Linked DNA regions of Homo sapiens. The protein of the gene in region 1 purifies or fractionates together with the protein of each later gene. This does not show direct contact. Each region holds a gene or a part of one and is shown in the gene's direction. Other genes may lie near its edges.

Region 1 (6,878 bases):
AAGAGAGGCAGCACTCAGCTGCCAACCCTTCCATACAGAGGCTCAAAGGGTTGTGAGCACTGTCCCTGGAGTTACCTGGTGGGTGATATCTGGCCGCGCTTCCCCAGGGTCCCGTCCATTCTTCAACAATATAGACTTGTGCTTGTCACAGTTGAGTAGCTCATATGTCTTCCCTACCTGAAGAACAGGGAACATGACGAGAGAACAGCATAAGCTTCTGTTACCTAGCCCCGTGGTTCTTCAAGTGTGGTCCCCAAACTACCAGCAGCAGCTGCACCTGGAAACTTGTTAGGCAAATTCTCAGGCCCACCCTAGACCTACTAAACCAGGAACACTGGGGGTGGAGCCCAGCAAGCCCTTCGGGGGATTACTGTGCAGCCTTATTTGCACTCCCCAGTGAATGGTCTGAGAGGGAAACAGGAGGAAGGGCACAACCTGTGACTTCACATTATCTACTAATACACTGGATTTAATTAAAAAACCTGTGGCTGTTAGGCAAGGCCAATGAGACATCCTGGAACTAGGCAGGAGTTAGTAGTTAGCAAGGCTGAATGCTGTGTTTATTACAGGAGCAGTAAGTAGGTACTGTGCAAAATATCGAGTCACCACCCTCAGTTTGCGTACACCAAACATGCACTAAGTGAAGAGCTGCAAATCTGAACAAGAAATGTGAAGGCCGGGCGTGGTGGCTCACGCCTGTAATCCCAGCACTTTGGGAGGCCGAGGCGGGCAGATCACAAGGTCAGGAGATTGAGACCATCGTGGCTAACACGGTGAAACCCCATCTCTACTAAAAATATAAAAAATTAGCCGGGCATGGTGGCAGGCGCCTGTAGTCCCAGCTACTTGGGAGGCAGAGGCAGGAGAATGGCATGAACCCAGGAGGCGGAGCTTGCAGCGCCACTGCACTCCAGCCCGGGCAACAGAGCGAGACTCCATCTCAAAAAAAAGAAATGTGAAAACTAATGATGCAGGAGGCAGTTTAATCAAAGAAAACTCTCAGAAGTAAAAGGAAGAGGGGTTATTCCCAGTTTTAAGACGGGCATGGGGGCAGATGCAGTGGCTCACGGCTGTAATCCCAGCACTCTGGGAGGCCAAGGCAGGCAAATCACTTAAGGTCAGGAGTTCAAGACCAGCCTGGGCAACATGGCGAAACCCCATCTCTACTAAAAATACAAAAATTAGCTGGGCATGGTGGCACATGCCTGTAGTCCTAGCTACTTGGGAGGCTAAGGTGGGAGGATGGCTTGAGCCCAGGAGACAGAGATTGCAGTGAGCCAAGACTGTACCACTGCACTCCAGCAAGACCCTGTCTCAAAAAAAAGAAAAAAGAAAGACTGGCATGAGCAAAGGTACAGATGGAATCAAGACAAAGTAGCCAGGTGTGGTGGCTTATGCCTGTGATCCCAACACTTTAGGAGGCCGAGGTGGAAGGATCACTTGAGCCCAGGAATTTGAGACCGGCCTGGGCAACACGGTGGGACCCTGTCTCACAAAAAAAAAAAAAAAAATTAGCCAGGCGCAGTGCCATTTGCTGGCAGTCCCAGTTACTCAGGAGGATGAGGTGGGAGGACTGCTTGAGCCAGGGAAGTAGAGGCTGCAGTGAACCATCACACCACTGCACTCTGTTGCCCAGGCAACAGAGCAAGACCCTATCTCAAAAAAGAAACAAAAAAGAAAAAGTGGAAACGAAGAAAGGAAATTTTGAGGAAAATTGGGAGCTGAGACACTAAAGGGCAGTGATTATATATGAAGCTGCTTTGTAAACCACAGAATCCTAATGTATCAAGCACAAAGCCAAAAATAATTCTGGAGTAAGCAGGGCAGGATGGGAATGACTGACAGACACTATCCTAACAACTCTCTGTACACTGGAAAAGACATCAGAAGTTTGATGTTAAAGAAGTGGACTACATCTGTAGCAGCTAAAAGAAATAATTCCAAGTTGCAATTTGGAGTCCCAAGGAGCATTAGGGTGGTCAGTAAAAAGTCTAAAAACAAACTGTTATATACAAATACAAGTTTTGGAAGGTTAAGTTTTTATGTATCACTGGAATGTATATGTCTAGCAACATTCTTGAGATATATGGCTCCAAAAAGTCTGCGAAAAAAGGGATGTAGATTTTGAAATTGAATAGTTGAAGTAATGTCACAGAGAGCACAAAGAACAAATGACCAAGAACTAAGTCCATGAGACACCCTTAGTTATAGAAGAAAAAAACCTTCTTGAATGAATAATACAGTTTCAACCCATTAGTAGGATATAATCATGTTTTCTATTCTTTTAATAGATTACAGGCGCAGGCCTGTAATCCCAGCTACTCTGGAGGCTGAGGCAGGAGAATCGATTGAACCCGGGAGGCGGAGGCTGCAGTGAGCCAAGATCGTGCCACTGCACTCCAGCCTGGTAGAGACTGAGACTCCATCTCAAAAAAAAAAAAAAAAAAAAGTGTATTTAGAACGAAGATTAAAATCCTGGCCTGACTTCTAAACCAATGCGATTTCTTCTGGGCCTATTCAATTAGTTCTAACGGGTAAGAGAAAGGAGGAGGAAGAACACTGCCCAAGGCTTTAAGATAGAGAACTGCTGGTTCTATTACATGTGGGGAAAGAGATGAATGATAGATAAAAATGCAGATGTAAAAGTTTTAAATAATAACCAGGTCTGGACAGTGTATCATAGGTGGATATTAGAGAGAGGTGACTATGGATACTAATGAATTGAAACACGAAGCCCTTACAAAAAGTGTGGGCAGACTAGGCTACATAACTACGTTTCTCATCTGCCCAGTAACTTGTCTTGGGATGTGGAATGACGCAAGGAACGAAACTTTCCTCTGCTTAGACTACTATACCACAGAATCCTGGTAAACCAATTGGAAGCAAGGAGGTGAGGGCTAGAATATCATTCAAAAAGAGCAAAAGAAAATGAGTACTACCGGCCGGGCACAGTGGCTCACGCCTCTAATCCCAACACTTTGGGAGGCCGAGGCGGGCGGATCACTTGAGGTCAGGAGTTCGAGACCAGCGTGGCCAACATGGTGAAACCCCATCTGAACTAAAAATACAAAAAAATTAGCCGGGCGTGGTGGCACCTGCCTGTAGTCCCAGCTACTCCAGAGGCTGAGTCAGGAGAACTGTTTGAAGGCGGGAGGCAGAAGTTGCAGTGAGCCGAGGTCGCGCAACTGCACTCCAGCCTGGGCGACAGAGCGAGACTCCGTCTCAAAAAAAAAAAAAAAAAGAAAGAAAAATGAGTACTACCATCCCAGGATGTCAAATCAACGCAAAGCCAACCAAGCCACCTTCCTTCAAAAGCATCTTTCACCCCTCTCTGCTTTCTACATCCACTCTGGGCCCCTTACCCTCATTCCACGGAGTCCCAACCTATCGATTTACTACTTCTCCACTTCCTGTCCCAAACTACCTTGACTGTCTCCAGACTGGCCCCTTCCAGCACCACAATAAGCCTACGGCCTCCGATCTTGTTTCCTGCCCCTAGTCGGGGCCGCTTGGGTGGCAGAGCATCCCAGTCCTGTGCCTGCTCCCCACCGCTTCGTTCACGAGGCTTGAATCCATCACTGGGCGCGGCCATCTTGCAACAATACCGGAAGTTGCGCTAACGCTCTTAAATAAGAACAGCGCGGCTTCTAATCACAAATTTCCTTCCGGCTGCCATTTTGAAAGTGGGCCAGGAAATGGAGATGACTTGCTGTCTTGCGCTGCCCTCCCTGGGAGGGCAGCCTTCCAGAAAGGGGCGGGACTTCCGTATGCGCGATTCCTGTGCGCGAAGTTCGGGTCCGTAGTGGGCTAAGGGGGAGGGTTTCAAAGGGAGCGCACTTCCGCTGCCCTTTCTTTCGCCAGCCTTACGGGCCCGAACCCTCGTGTGAAGGGTGCAGTACCTAAGCCGGAGCGGGGTAGAGGCGGGCCGGCACCCCCTTCTGACCTCCAGTGCCGCCGGCCTCAAGATCAGACATGGCCCAGAACTTGAAGGACTTGGCGGGACGGCTGCCCGCCGGGCCCCGGGGCATGGGCACGGCCCTGAAGCTGTTGCTGGGGGCCGGCGCCGTGGCCTACGGTGTGCGCGAATCTGTGTTCACCGGTGAGCAACCTCCGCCTGCTCGCCGGACGCTTCCAGTCCCTCCCCCAAACCCCTTGCCCTGTCCCCGCGCCCCTCCACGGGCCTAGCATTTCCTCTGAGCAGCGGCCTGGCCTGATCACCACCCATCTCCCCACAGTGGAAGGCGGGCACAGAGCCATCTTCTTCAATCGGATCGGTGGAGTGCAGCAGGACACTATCCTGGCCGAGGGCCTTCACTTCAGGTAATGGCGGGCAGAGCCTGCTGACCCTGACCTTTCACCCTTGACGCCGACCCAGCAGTGGCTATAGTCGGACGTGCAACAGGATTCAACGCTGCTCTTTTCCCACCCTCCTCATCCCTGCCCCTAGGATAGTGGGTGCTGCGAGAACCTCCAGCAGCATACAAACTGTTGTTTTCCAGAGGGACAAGAGAATCTCTCCTTGTCTGTGGTCGTGGAGAGGAGCAGGCCAAAAAACGCGTGGTGAGGGGAAACCGGGCAAGGCTAGTGAAACTGCGGCCTTTTCTTTTTTTTTTTTTGGAGAGGGAGTCTTGCTCTGTCGCCCAGGCTGGAGTGCAGTGGCGCGATCTCGGCTCACTGCAACCTCCGCCTCCTGATTTCAAGCGATTCTCCTGCCTCAGCCTCACGAGTAGCTGGGATTACAGGCGCCCGCCACCACGCCCGGCTAATTTTTGTATTTTAGTAGAGACGGGGTTTCACTATGTAGATCAAGCTGGTCTCGAACTCCTGACCTCAAATGATCCGCCCGCCTCGGCCTCCCAAAGTGCTGGGATTACAGGCGTGAGCCACCGCGCCCGGCCGAAACTGTGGCCTCTTAATACCTATCCCTGTCCTCTCCAGGATCCCTTGGTTCCAGTACCCCATTATCTATGACATTCGGGCCAGACCTCGAAAAATCTCCTCCCCTACAGGCTCCAAAGGTAGGTCTGAGCACTTGGTAATCACATGGCAGGTGGGATGATCAAGGTAGCTGGCAAGAAACCCCAGGGGAATATGGTAGTGTCAGGCCTTTAGGCCTCTTTCCACATCTGCAAGAGCTGTAACAAAAATACCTGCCTCCTGGGGTCAAAGCAGCAAATTCTGAACACACTGTGTTTGCGTGCTTTTTACTGTCTCCTCCCTGACGTGTATTCAATAAGAGTATTGTTTGTCCCTCGTCTTGTTCACTGCCTAGATCAAAGCTTTGTTTTAAAGCCTTTTTTTTCTAACTGCTTGACTTACTATATCTACAGTTACATCCACTAGTACACTCTGTTCTGGAGAAGTTTGTCCCTAAGCTTGACTAGTTCACCTGTTCTCTCCTTCTAGACCATACATAAAAGCCGTGCCTTTGAGTTCCCCAGACCTCTTCCTCCTCCCCACCCACGCACACATATACACCCTGGGTCAGGTAGCTCACCTGTAACCTGTAATGTACTTCTTTGTGCTATACCTAGTGCAGGTCGCTTATTCATTTACTAGACTGGGCCCTGGGAATAAAAGATTCATTAAACACAATTCTTGTCCCCCAAGTCCTTACAGGAGACATGATTACGGTACAGCACGAAAGCGCCCACGTTAGAGGTTGCACAGAGTACAGAGGGGGAAAGAGTAGTCAGCTCTGCTGGTGACGGGGTTTGCAGTTCAAGGCTTCACAGTGGGTGAGGGTGCATTTCAGCTGTGCTGCGTCTTGTCTTCCTTGTCAGCCTGATTAACTCTCCTCCCCCCAGGGTAGTGCCAGGCTGTACACCATTGCACAGGGCATACAGGGAGGAACATGAAGGAGAAAATGCTTGGGAAAGGGTGTTTGGCCTTGACCAGCCACTGCTGACCTCAATCTCAGACCTACAGATGGTGAATATCTCCCTGCGAGTGTTGTCTCGACCCAATGCTCAGGAGCTTCCTAGCATGTACCAGCGCCTAGGGCTGGACTACGAGGAACGAGTGTTGCCGTCCATTGTCAACGAGGTGCTCAAGAGTGTGGTGGCCAAGTTCAATGCCTCACAGCTGATCACCCAGCGGGCCCAGGTCTGACTCCCACCACCATCTGCGTGGTGTCAGCCTTTCCTTCCTAGGCCCAGAGTATTGGGAATTAGGAAAGGCAGCTTATTAGAAAAGCATTGTCACCCTAGTGCCATTTCCACCTAAAAGCTGTGCTAATTGCCACTGTGAAATAAGGAGAGCCAGCATTAGAACTCGATAGCACTCGGTGTTAGGAAGCACAGAGGAAAATGGCCAAGTCTTGGCTTTTCCTGCACCTCTTCGAGCAGAGAGGCTTATGTTACAGGTTTGCCTGACAGGAAGCTAAGGCAGTGCATGTTGTATTGAGAGTGAAGGGTTAGGGGTCGCAACCTTCCTTTCAGCTCCCCAGTCCCCTCAAACCACCCCTCCCTTCCCCTCTTCACCCCTGCCCTCAGGTATCCCTGTTGATCCGCCGGGAGCTGACAGAGAGGGCCAAGGACTTCAGCCTCATCCTGGATGATGTGGCCATCACAGAGCTGAGCTTTAGCCGAGAGTACACAGCTGCTGTAGAAGCCAAACAAGTGGGTGAGTCGCAAGAGCCGTGGGGTGAGGGCTTCTGAGATGCAGGAGGAGGAAAGACTCCATGGGTGGGGCTCCTGACCCAGGACAGGGTCTCCCTGACTCTCTCCCACCACAGCCCAGCAGGAGGCCCAGCGGGCCCAATTCTTGGTAGAAAAAGCAAAGCAGGAACAGCGGCAGAAAATTGTGCAGGCCGAGGGTGAGGCCGAGGCTGCCAAGATGATATCCTTCTGCTGGAGAGATCTCAGCCCAGCCCCTAG
Region 2 (2,976 bases), on another chromosome or scaffold:
TTATGAAACTTACAGTTAAATCTTTAGTTCTGGTTAAAATCTTTAAAAAATATTTTTCAGCTGAATTCAGTTCTGATTCAGTTATGATTAAAACAATTTCAACTTAAACTATAAAATGTTTCTTTTTTTGAGGTTTTATATTACTTGCTAGACTGCAGAGCCCGTTTCTTTCATCATAACATCGTTTAGATGTTTCCTGTTTAAAATCAGTGTTACAAGTTATTAAGGTATTGTACAGCAAAGCTAGTTAAAGAGAATGTAGACTCTGTGAGTGGCAGTAAATGGCACAGGCTTAGATCTTAGAATAGTTCAGAAACTGTATTTGAACTGCTTTCTTATATTAGACAGTTTAACAGCTGTTCAGACAGTATACTAGTTTAAAATCAGCCTAATATGTAATCTTTCAGTGATTATAGCTCATGTCAATATAATCAAAGGAAGTGTCCTGTGCTTTATGAGAAGTATTGGATTCAAGAGCATTTAGAACATTTTTATATTTTACCGATCAGAGTGGGTGATATTTTAACACATGCTTCATCCTTCTTGTATTGTTGTCAATATTTCTTCACGTTGTTTTCTTTCAATAGAAGGCGCTTACAGCTCAATGCTAATCAGGCCTTCTTCCTGTTGGTGAACGGACACAGCATGGTCAGCGTCTCCACACCAATCTCAGAGGTGTATGAGAGTGAGAAAGATGAAGATGGATTCCTGTACATGGTCTATGCCTCCCAGGAGACGTTCGGGATGAAATTGTCAGTGTAAAACCAGAAAAAATGCAGCTCTTCTAGAATTGTTTAAACCCTTACCAAGGAAAAAAAAGGGATGTTACCAACTGAGATCGATCAGTTCATCCAATCACAGATCATGAAACAGTAGTGTTCCCACCTAGGAGTGTTAGGAAGTTGTGTTTGTGTTTCAAGCAGAAAAACTGAGCTCCAAGTGAGCACATTCAGCTTTGGAAACTATATTATTTAATGTAGGCTAGCTTGTTTTCAAATTTTAAAAGTTTAAAAATAAAATACTTTGCATTCTAAGTTGCCAATAAAATAGACCTTCAAGTTATTTTAATGCTCTTTTCTCACTAATAGGAACTTGTAATTCCAGCAGTAATTTAAAGGCTTTCAGAGAGACCCTGAGTCTTCTCTTCAGGTTCACAAAACCCGCCGCCTTTTTGGGTAGAAGTTTTCTACTCAGCTAGAGAGATCTCCCTAAGAGGATCTTTAGGCCTGAGTTGTGAAGCGCAACCCCCGCAAAACGCATTTGCCATCACAGTTGGCACAAACGCAGGGTAAACGGGCTGTGTGAGAAAACGGCCCTGACTGTAAACTGCTGAAGGTCCCTGACTCCTAAGAGAACCACACCCAAAGTCCTCACTCTTGCAGGGGTAGACATTTCTGGTTTGGTTTGTTCTCTAGATAGTTACACACATAAAGACACCACTCAAAAGGAAACTTGAATAATTTATAATTTTGATCGAGTTTCTTAAAAGACCCTGGAGAAAGAGTGGCATTTCTTCTGTTTCAGGTTTTGTCTGAGTTCAAACTAGTGCCTGTGTTGTTACGGAAAGCAGCAGTGTACCAGTGTCACTCTGGAGTACAGCGGGAGAAACACAAAATAGTATAACTGAAAACATTAACATTCAGACACACTCCCTTCTGCCTTCCGGCTTAAAGCTGTGGATGATCCACGTTTTTGTTTTTTTAATGTTAAATGTGTAACTCAGTATTACTGAAAAGGTACCCACATTTTGAATAGTAGTTATCACTCTTAGGTCAGACAGCCATCAGAATTCTCCCACACCAAGTGCATGTCAGTTGTGGAGAAAACATAGCAAAAAGAGCCGTACGCTCTTTACAGATACTAATGTCAAGAGTTAAACCTCCTCAGGTTCAACCTGTGATAAAAGACTAGTGCTTCCCAGTACTTGCATGGGGTTCACTATTTATAGTTTTCTTGGGAGTATCACAGGAAAATCACAATTACACCACTTTAGACCCTATGTGTAGCAGGTCACAACTTACCCTTGTGTGTTTAGATGTGTATGAAATACCTGTATACGTTAGTGAAAGCTGTTTACTGTAACGGGGAAAACCAGATTCTTTGCATCTGGGCCCTCTACTGATTGTTAAAGGAGTTCCTGTCACCTGCTCCCCCCACCCCCGCATGCGTCTGTCCACTTGGCTAACTTTTAATATGTGTATTTTTACATTATGTATATTCTTAACTGGACTGTCTCGTTTAGACTGTATACATCATATCTGACATTATTGTAACTACCGTGTGATCAGTAAGATTCCTGTAAGAAATACTGCTTTTTAAGAAAAAAAATAACATGCTGAGGGGTGACCTATATCCCATGTGAGTGGTCACTTTATTTATAGGATCTTTAAAACATTTTTAATGAACTAAGTTGAATAAAGGCACAATTAAAAACTGTCATCAAAGCCCAGTTTAATGGGATTCCGTATTTGAGACTTGGATCCCACACTGTTTGTACTTTCCAAAGCCAAGCGGGTCCTTGTATTTCCAAGGAGGGGCATCCAGGCTGGTCCTCTCGTGCAGAGGGGGCACTCACGTGGATGAGCATTGCCCTCCGAGGGCCTCTGCCTTGTCAAGGGCACCCTCCACCTTGGCCAAGGCCCTGCCACCAGGTCTGGCCTTTACAAAGCCAAGTCCTCTTGAGAACTCACGTGCCACGGGCTATCAGGATGGATGCGAATTGACCTACATGTTTTGTGGGACTATAACACCCAACAACCTACTGCTGTAAACCACCCACCACCATAAGTATTTATTAGGTATGTGTGTGTGGTCGAGAAAGTGTACCCTTGGGGGACCCAGTGGGGAGCTGCTGGCATCGTGTACAGATGCAGCACACACACACTTCAGCACTCAGACCAGACAAAAAGTGGCCAACCTCATCATCTAGGGAACTCTGAGCCCAGCTCCCGTTTAAGTAGGCACCTAAAAGTCTGT
Region 3 (7,037 bases), on another chromosome or scaffold:
TTTTTTGGAGACAGGGCCTTACTCTGTTACCCAGGCTGGCGTGCAGTGGTGTGATCACGGCTCACTGCAGCCTCAACCTCCTGGGTTCAGGCTTTCCTCCAGCCTCAGCCTCCCTGGTAGCTGGGACTACAGGCACATGCCACCACGCCCAGCTAATTTTTGGTTTTTTTTTGTAGAGATATGGTTTCACCATGTTGCCCAGGCTGGTCTCAAACTCCTGAGCTCAAGAGATCTGCGTGCCTCAGCCTCCCAAAGTGTCTGGATTACAGGCATGAGCCCCTGGGCCCAGCTGCAACGCGCAAAATCTTAAGGGTACATCTGACCGATGCGCATGCCTGTGTGACTCAAGCTCCATCGAGATCTGAATAAGTTTTTGTATTCCTTTCTGTTAACTATTTTTCTTTGTCTCGTTTTTGAGCAGATCTGAATATGGTTGTGTATCTGAATATGGCTTTATATTCTACTTCAGGAAGAATTCAAATCCCATCAAGATCTGAATATGGTTTTTTCTTTTGTTTTGAGACAGAGTCTCACTGTGTCACCCAGGCTGGAGTGCAGTGGCCCAATCTCGGCTCACTGCAACCTCTGCCACCCTGGTTCAAGCGATTCTCCTGCCTCAGCCTCCCAAGTAGCTGGGATTACAGGCTCCACCATGCCCAGCTAATTTTTTTTTTTTTTTGAGACGGAGTCTTGCTCTGTCGTCCAGGCTGGAGTGCAGTGGCGCGATCTCGGCTCACTGCAAGCTCCACCTCCTGGGTTCATGCCATTCTCCTGCCTCAGTCTCCCGAGTAGCTGGGACTACAGGCGCCCGCCACCACGCCCGGCTAAGTTTTTGTATTTTTAGTAGAGACAGGGTTTCACCGTGTTAGCCAGGATGGTCTCGATCTCCTGACCTCATGATCCGCCCGCCTCGGCCTCCCAAAGTGCTGGGATTACAGTTGTGAGCTACTGCACCCGGCCTCATTTTTTTATTTTTAGTAGAGACGGGGTTTCACCATCTTGGCTAGGCTGGTCTTGAGCTCCTGACCTCGTGATCCACCTGTCTCAGCCTCCCAAAGTGCTAGGATTACAGCCACTGCACCCAGCCTGAATATGGTTTTGTATTCTACTTTTTTTACTTTATTACATCACAAATATTTTTACCTTTATTTTTTTGAGACCAAGTTTCGCTCTTGTTGCCCAGGCTGGAGTGCAATGGCGCGATCTCGGCTCACCGCAACCTCTGCCTCCTGGGTTCAAGCGATTCTCCTGCCTCAGCCTCTCGAGTAGCTGGGATTACAGGCATGTGCCACCACGCCTAGCTAATTTTGTATTTTTAGTAGAGACAGTGGTTTCTCCATGTTGGTCGGGCTGTTCTCAAACTCCCAACTTCAGGTGATCTACCCCCCTCGGCCTCTCAAAGTGCTAGGATTACAGGTGTGAGCCACTGCACCAGGCCCTTTTTTTTTTTTTTTTTTTTTTTTTGAGAGGGAATCTCACTTTGTCACCCAGGCTGGAGTGCAGTGGCGTGATCTGGGCTCACTGCAACCTCCGCCTCCTGTGTTCAAGCGATTCTCCTGCCTTAGCCTCCTGAGTAGCTGTGACTACAGGCGGGTGCCACCACGCCCGGCTAAGTTTGTATTTTTAGCAGAGACAGGGTTTCACTGTGTTAGCCAGGATGGTCTCGGTCTCCTTACCTGGTGATCCACTCGGCCTGGCCTCCCAAAGTGCTGTGATTACAGGCGTGAGCCACCATGCCTGGCCTTTTTTTTTTTTTTTTAATACAGATTCTCGCTGTGTCACCCAGGCTGTGGTGCAGTGGCGCAATCTCAGCTCACTGCAACCTCCGCCTCCTGGGTTCCAGCAATTCTCGTGCCTCAGCCTCCTGAGTAGCTGGGAGTACAGGCATGTGCCTTCACACCCAGCTAATTTTTGTATTTTTTGATAGAGGCGGGGTTTCACCAAGCCAAGATCGTGCCACTGCACTTCAGCCTGGGTGATAGAGTGAGACTCCATCTCAAAAAAATAAAATAAAGAAAATAAAAATACCTGAATGAGAATCGTCGTTGAGAAGGTTTCCTGGATGCTCCTTGCTGTGGTGGAGCACTCCCTTCGGGGTTTCGCCCTTCAGTGGGACTTTCAGGTAGGTCTGACCTGAGAGGTCTTTTTGATTCTTTGTAGGTGCCCAGGGTGGCTCCGTGGCCCGCACACTCCTGGAAGATGGGACATTCAAGGTTCGAGTGGTGACCCGAAACCCTAGGAAGAAGGCAGCAAAGGAGCTGAGGCTGCAAGGTGCAGAAGTAGTGCAGGGAGACCAAGATGACCAGGTCATCATGGAGCTGGCCCTGAATGGGGCTTACGCCACCTTCATCGTGACCAATTACTGGGAGAGCTGCAGCCAGGAGCAGGAGGTCAAGCAGGTGAGGGCAGGCAGGAGCTGCAGGGAGGCCCGGCCAGGCTAGGAGCAGAGCGCCTGGGAGGAGCTCCGACTCTGCAGGGAGGTTGGAGCACTGCAGGCCTTTCCCTCTTCTTCATGCCTCTGCCTGCTCTAGGCTGTGAAGCAGGTGGACGCTGTTGCTTTCTCATCCAATTACTTTTTTTTTGTTTGTTTGAGGCCGTCTCAGTCTCCGTGAGCAACCACGCCTGGCCTGTTCGTTTGTTTTTTTTTTTTTTAATCAAAAATGTTAGAAGTTTTTTTTAAAAAGTAATTTCCACTTTTATTTTAGATTCAGGGGTACATGCACAGGTTTGTTACATTGGTATATTGAGTGATGCTGAGGTCTGGGGTGTGACTGGACCTGTCACCCAGGTAGTGGGCACAGTACCCAGTAGGTAGGTTTTCAACCCTTGCCTCCCTCCCTCCCGTGGTTCCCAGTGTCTGTTGTTGCCTTCATGTCCACGTGTACCCATCCAAACTTGTTATTAGCCTTGACCCTTTCTTCAATTATGGTCTTACCTAGAAGCCCATTATATAGAGCAGACAAAGACAACTTCTCTGATTAACGCAGATCTTTTTTTTTTTTTTTTTTTTGAGACTGAGTCTTGCTCTGTCGCCCAGGCCGGAGTGCAGTGGGGTGATCTCGGCTCACTGCAACCTCTGCCTCCCAGATTCAAGCAATTCTTCTGCCTCAGCCTCCCGAGTAGCTGGGATTATAGGTGTGTACCAGCACACCCAACTAATTTTTGTATTTTTAGTAGAGGCGGGGTTTCACCATGTTGGCCAGGCTGGTCTTGAACTCCTGACCTCAGGTGATCCGCCCACCTCGGCCTCCCAAAGTGCTGGGATTACAGGCGTAAGCCACATGCCCGGCCCTGAGCTGATCTTATTTCTTTCTTTATTTTTTGAGGCCGAGTTTCGCTTTTGTTGCCCAGGCTGGCATGCAATGGCGCAATCTTGGCTCACCGCAACCTCCGCCTCCTGGGTTCAAGTTATTCTCCTGCCCCAGCCTCCCGAATAGCTGAGATTACATGCATGCGTCACCATGCCCTGGTAATTTTTTTGTATTTTTAGTACAGACGGGGTTTCTCCATGTTGGTCAAGCTGGTCTCTAACTCCCGGCCTCAGGCGATCCGCCTGCCTCGGCCTCCCAAAGTGCTGGGACTGCGGGCATGAGCCACTGCGCCCAGCCCAGCAGATCTTATTTCTAATCCTGATGATTCCCTGTGGGCTTCCTGGTACTGTCACGAAAAAGGACCACAATCCACGTGGCTTAAAACCATAGAAATCAGCTGGGCACAGTGGCTCATGCTTGTAATCCCCACACTTTGGGAGGCCGAGGCGGGCAGATCACTTGAAGTCAGGAGTTTGAGACCATCCTGGCCAACACAGTGAAACCCTGTCTCTACTAAAAATACAAAAATTAGCTGGGCATGGTGGTGGGCGCCTGTAATCCCAGCTACTCAGGAGGCTGAGGCAGGAGAATTGCTTGAACCCAAGAGGCGGAGGTTGCAGTGAGCCAAGATTGTGCCACTGCACTCCGGCCTGAGCGACAGAGCTAGACTCTGTCTCAAAAACAAAAACAAAAACCACAGAAATCGATTCTCTGATATTCTAGAAGCTAGAAGTTCAAAATCAAGGTGTCAGCAATGTCACCCTCTCTCCAGAGTCTTGGAGGCCAGGCGTGGTAGTTTATGCTTGTAATCCCAGCACTTTGGGAGGCTGAGGTGGGCAGATCACTTAAGGTCAGGAGTTCAAGACCAGCCTGGCCAACACAGCAAAACCCTGTCTCTACAAAAAATACAAAAATTAGCCAGGCATGGTGGCGGGCACCTGTAGTCCCAGCGACTCAGGAGGGTGAGGCAGGAGAATTGCTTGAATCCAGGAAGCGGAGGCTGCAGTGAGCAGAGATCACGCCACTGCACTCCTGCCTGGGTGACAGAGTGAGAGTCCATCTTAAAAAACAAAACAAAACAAGGGGTTTGAGGGAAATCCTTCTTCACTGTTTCTGGCTTCTCATGGCTCCAGGTGTTCCTGGGCTTGTGGCCACAAAGCTCCAATCTCCGCTTCCCTCTTCGCATGGCCTTCTCCAGGTGTTGTCTCTTCTCCCGTCTCTTATAAGTACCCTGGTTACTGGATTTAGCGCCTATCTAGTTAGTGCAGGATGTTCCCATCTCAAGATCCTTCACGTAATTACATCTGCCAAGACCCTTTTTCCGAATAAGGTCACATTCACAGTTTTCAGGAATGAGGATGCGGCATATCTTTTTGGAGGCCACCGTCCGAATCTCTGCGTCACCTCATGCAGTAGGTAGTGTTGTCATCTGCATTTTACCAGCGAGGTCAGGATGGTGCCATCACTTCTCTGGGGTCACACTGCTCGTACATGGCAGAGCCTGATTTGAACCTAGGCAGCTGTGGTGCCTCTGTATAGCCTCCCAGGGCTCTCCAAGGAAGATGGCTGAGCTCCATGGGCAGGGTGTTCTCACACCAGCAGAGATGGGACGTGTGCATTCTCCTTTAGACCTCCATGCAGGCCGTCCCCCTGCAGCCGACCTGCCCCCCCGTCCTATGTTGCACATGGTGGGCCAGAGTCAGTGGCTGGTAGAAGGCTTCCGGGGCTGTGTTTACGGGCGTGGTGTCATGTGTGAACATCATTCCAGGAGAGGGGGCCTCCTCAAGGGTAAGTGGGGTCTAGATGTTAACCTCGCAGATGGTGGCCGCTCCGGGATTAGAATGCTGGGGCTGTGACCAGGGACAGACATCCTTCTTCTGAGCCTTGTGATCTCTCCTTCCCTGCCCTCCAGGGGAAGCTGCTCGCTGATCTGGCCAGGCGCCTGGGCCTCCACTATGTGGTCTACAGCGGCCTGGAGAACATCAAGAAGCTGACGGCAGGGAGATTGGCCGCCGCGCACTTTGACGGCAAAGGGGAGGTGGAGGAATATTTCCGGGACATTGGCGTTCCCATGACCAGTGTGCGGCTGCCCTGCTATTTTGAGAACCTCCTCTCCCACTTCTTGCCCCAGAAAGCCCCAGACGGAAAGAGCTACTTGCTGAGTAAGTGCCCTTTCTCGCACACGGTGAGGCAGAGCTCTCACCCTGTAAAGCCGTTGGTGTAACAGACCGCGGGCCGCTGTCACGTGGTGCCAGGTTCAAGCCGTGGCTCCCTCACGTTAGGCCCAGGACTGAGCACATCCTGTCAGCTTGCGGGGCCTCAGCTTCCTGTTCTGTGAGATGGGCTCTATACCAATGTTTGCAGGGGTGGCAAGATCTGCTGAGATGGTGGTGACACGATATTCGCTTGGTCCATTGGAAGGCTTTACAGAGAGGACCTAGTGATTGTCAGTTCTCCTTCAAAGATGAGGAGGGCCGGGCGCTGTGGCTTATGCCTGTAGTCCCAGCACTTTGGGAGGCTGAGGCGGGGAGACCAGCCTGGCCAACATGGTGAAACCCCATCTCTACTAAAAATACAAAAATTAGCTGGGCGTGGTGCCACCCACCTGTACTGGCAGCTACTAGGGAGGCTGAGGCAGGGGAATCGCTTGAACCCAGGAGGTGGAGGTTGCAGTGAGCTGAGATTGTGCCACTGCACTCTAGCCTAGGCGACAAGAGCAACACTCCGTCTCAAAACAAACAAAACAAAACAAAACAAAACAAAAAAACCAAAGACGAGGAGAGGATTTGGAAAATGAAGTTCAGTTGCAGATTTCACAAACTAGGAAAGCTCTTTCTTCTCAGTGCCCATTGGGGCTATAAACAGGTTAGGTGCACTGGCCCTGGCTGGGAACAAGGCTCACCCAACCTGTGTCCTGCTGGTCACTCAGTGATCAGGGCAGGAGGGGTTGGTGCCTCTGGCTGGCCACTCCTTACCCTCTGGTTGAATGCCAGGTCACCCTCGCATAAGGGCCCAGCCCATGGGAGTCCTGCTCACCTGGCGGGCCAAGTCTGGTGGTAACAGTAGCCCTTTGGTACCACCATTTATTATAGTTTGCAAAGCTGGCCAGGCGCAGTGGCTTACGCCTGTAATCCCAGCACTTTGGGAAGCCGAGGTGGGCAGACCACCAGTTCAGGAGTTTGAGACCAGCCTGGCCAGCATGGTGTGAAACCCCATCTCTACTAAAAATACAAAAATTAGCCAGCCTGGCGTGGTGGTGCACGCCTGTAATCCCAGCTACTCGGGAGGCTGAGGCAGAAGAATCGCTTGAACCCAGGAGGCAGAGGTTGCAGTGAGCCGAGATCGTGGCACTGCACTCCAGCCTGGGTGACAGAGCAAGACCCCGTCTCAAAAAAAAAAGGCCGGGCACGGTGGCTTACGCCTGTAATCCCAGCACTTTGGGAGGCCGAGGAGGGCGGATCACGAGGTTCAGGAGATCGAGACCATCATGGCTAACTTGGTGAAACCCCTGTCTCTACTAAAAATACAAAAACTTAGCCGGGTGTGGCGGCAGGCGCCTGTAGTCCCAGCTACTCGGGAGGCTGAGGCAGGAGAATGGTGTGAACCCGGGAGGTGGAGCTTGTGGTGAGCCAAGATTGCGCCACTGCACTCCAGCCTGGGCGACAGAGCGAGACTCCATCTCAAAAAAAAAAAAAAAAAAAAACCTGCAGTCAGGGATATCTCCTG

Evidence for each region.
Region 2: the proteins of PHB2 (region 1) and MAP1LC3B purify together in Homo sapiens (affinity purification with western blotting; 3 studies listed by BioGRID and IntAct, with this or other methods). This does not show direct contact.
Region 3: the proteins of PHB2 (region 1) and NMRAL1 purify together in Homo sapiens (affinity purification with mass spectrometry; 4 studies listed by BioGRID and IntAct, with this or other methods). This does not show direct contact.

What each region holds. Positions count from the first base shown.
Region 1 is NC_000012.12:6,967,638-6,974,515, reverse strand, and holds the start of PHB2 (prohibitin-2), read left to right. Parts: upstream 1-3,851; 5' UTR 3,852-3,972; coding exon 3,973-4,099; intron 4,100-4,235; coding exon 4,236-4,320; intron 4,321-4,938; coding exon 4,939-5,018; intron 5,019-5,920; coding exon 5,921-6,105; intron 6,106-6,494; coding exon 6,495-6,624; intron 6,625-6,736; coding exon 6,737-6,840; intron 6,841-6,878. Other genes in the region: EMG1 (ribosomal RNA small subunit methyltransferase NEP1), read right to left, coding at 76-177, 3,425-3,592.
Region 2 is NC_000016.10:87,402,336-87,405,311, forward strand, and holds the end of MAP1LC3B (microtubule-associated protein 1 light chain 3 beta), read left to right. Parts: intron 1-587; coding exon 588-762; 3' UTR 763-2,439; downstream 2,440-2,976.
Region 3 is NC_000016.10:4,464,589-4,471,625, reverse strand, and holds part of NMRAL1 (nmrA-like family domain-containing protein 1), read left to right. Parts: intron 1-210; exon of another isoform or gene 211-312; intron 313-1,927; exon of another isoform or gene 1,928-2,032; coding exon of another isoform or gene 2,033-2,122; intron 2,123-2,160; coding exon 2,161-2,399; intron 2,400-5,223; coding exon 5,224-5,473; intron 5,474-7,037. UniProt on the Homo sapiens protein: Redox sensor protein. Undergoes restructuring and subcellular redistribution in response to changes in intracellular NADPH/NADP(+) levels.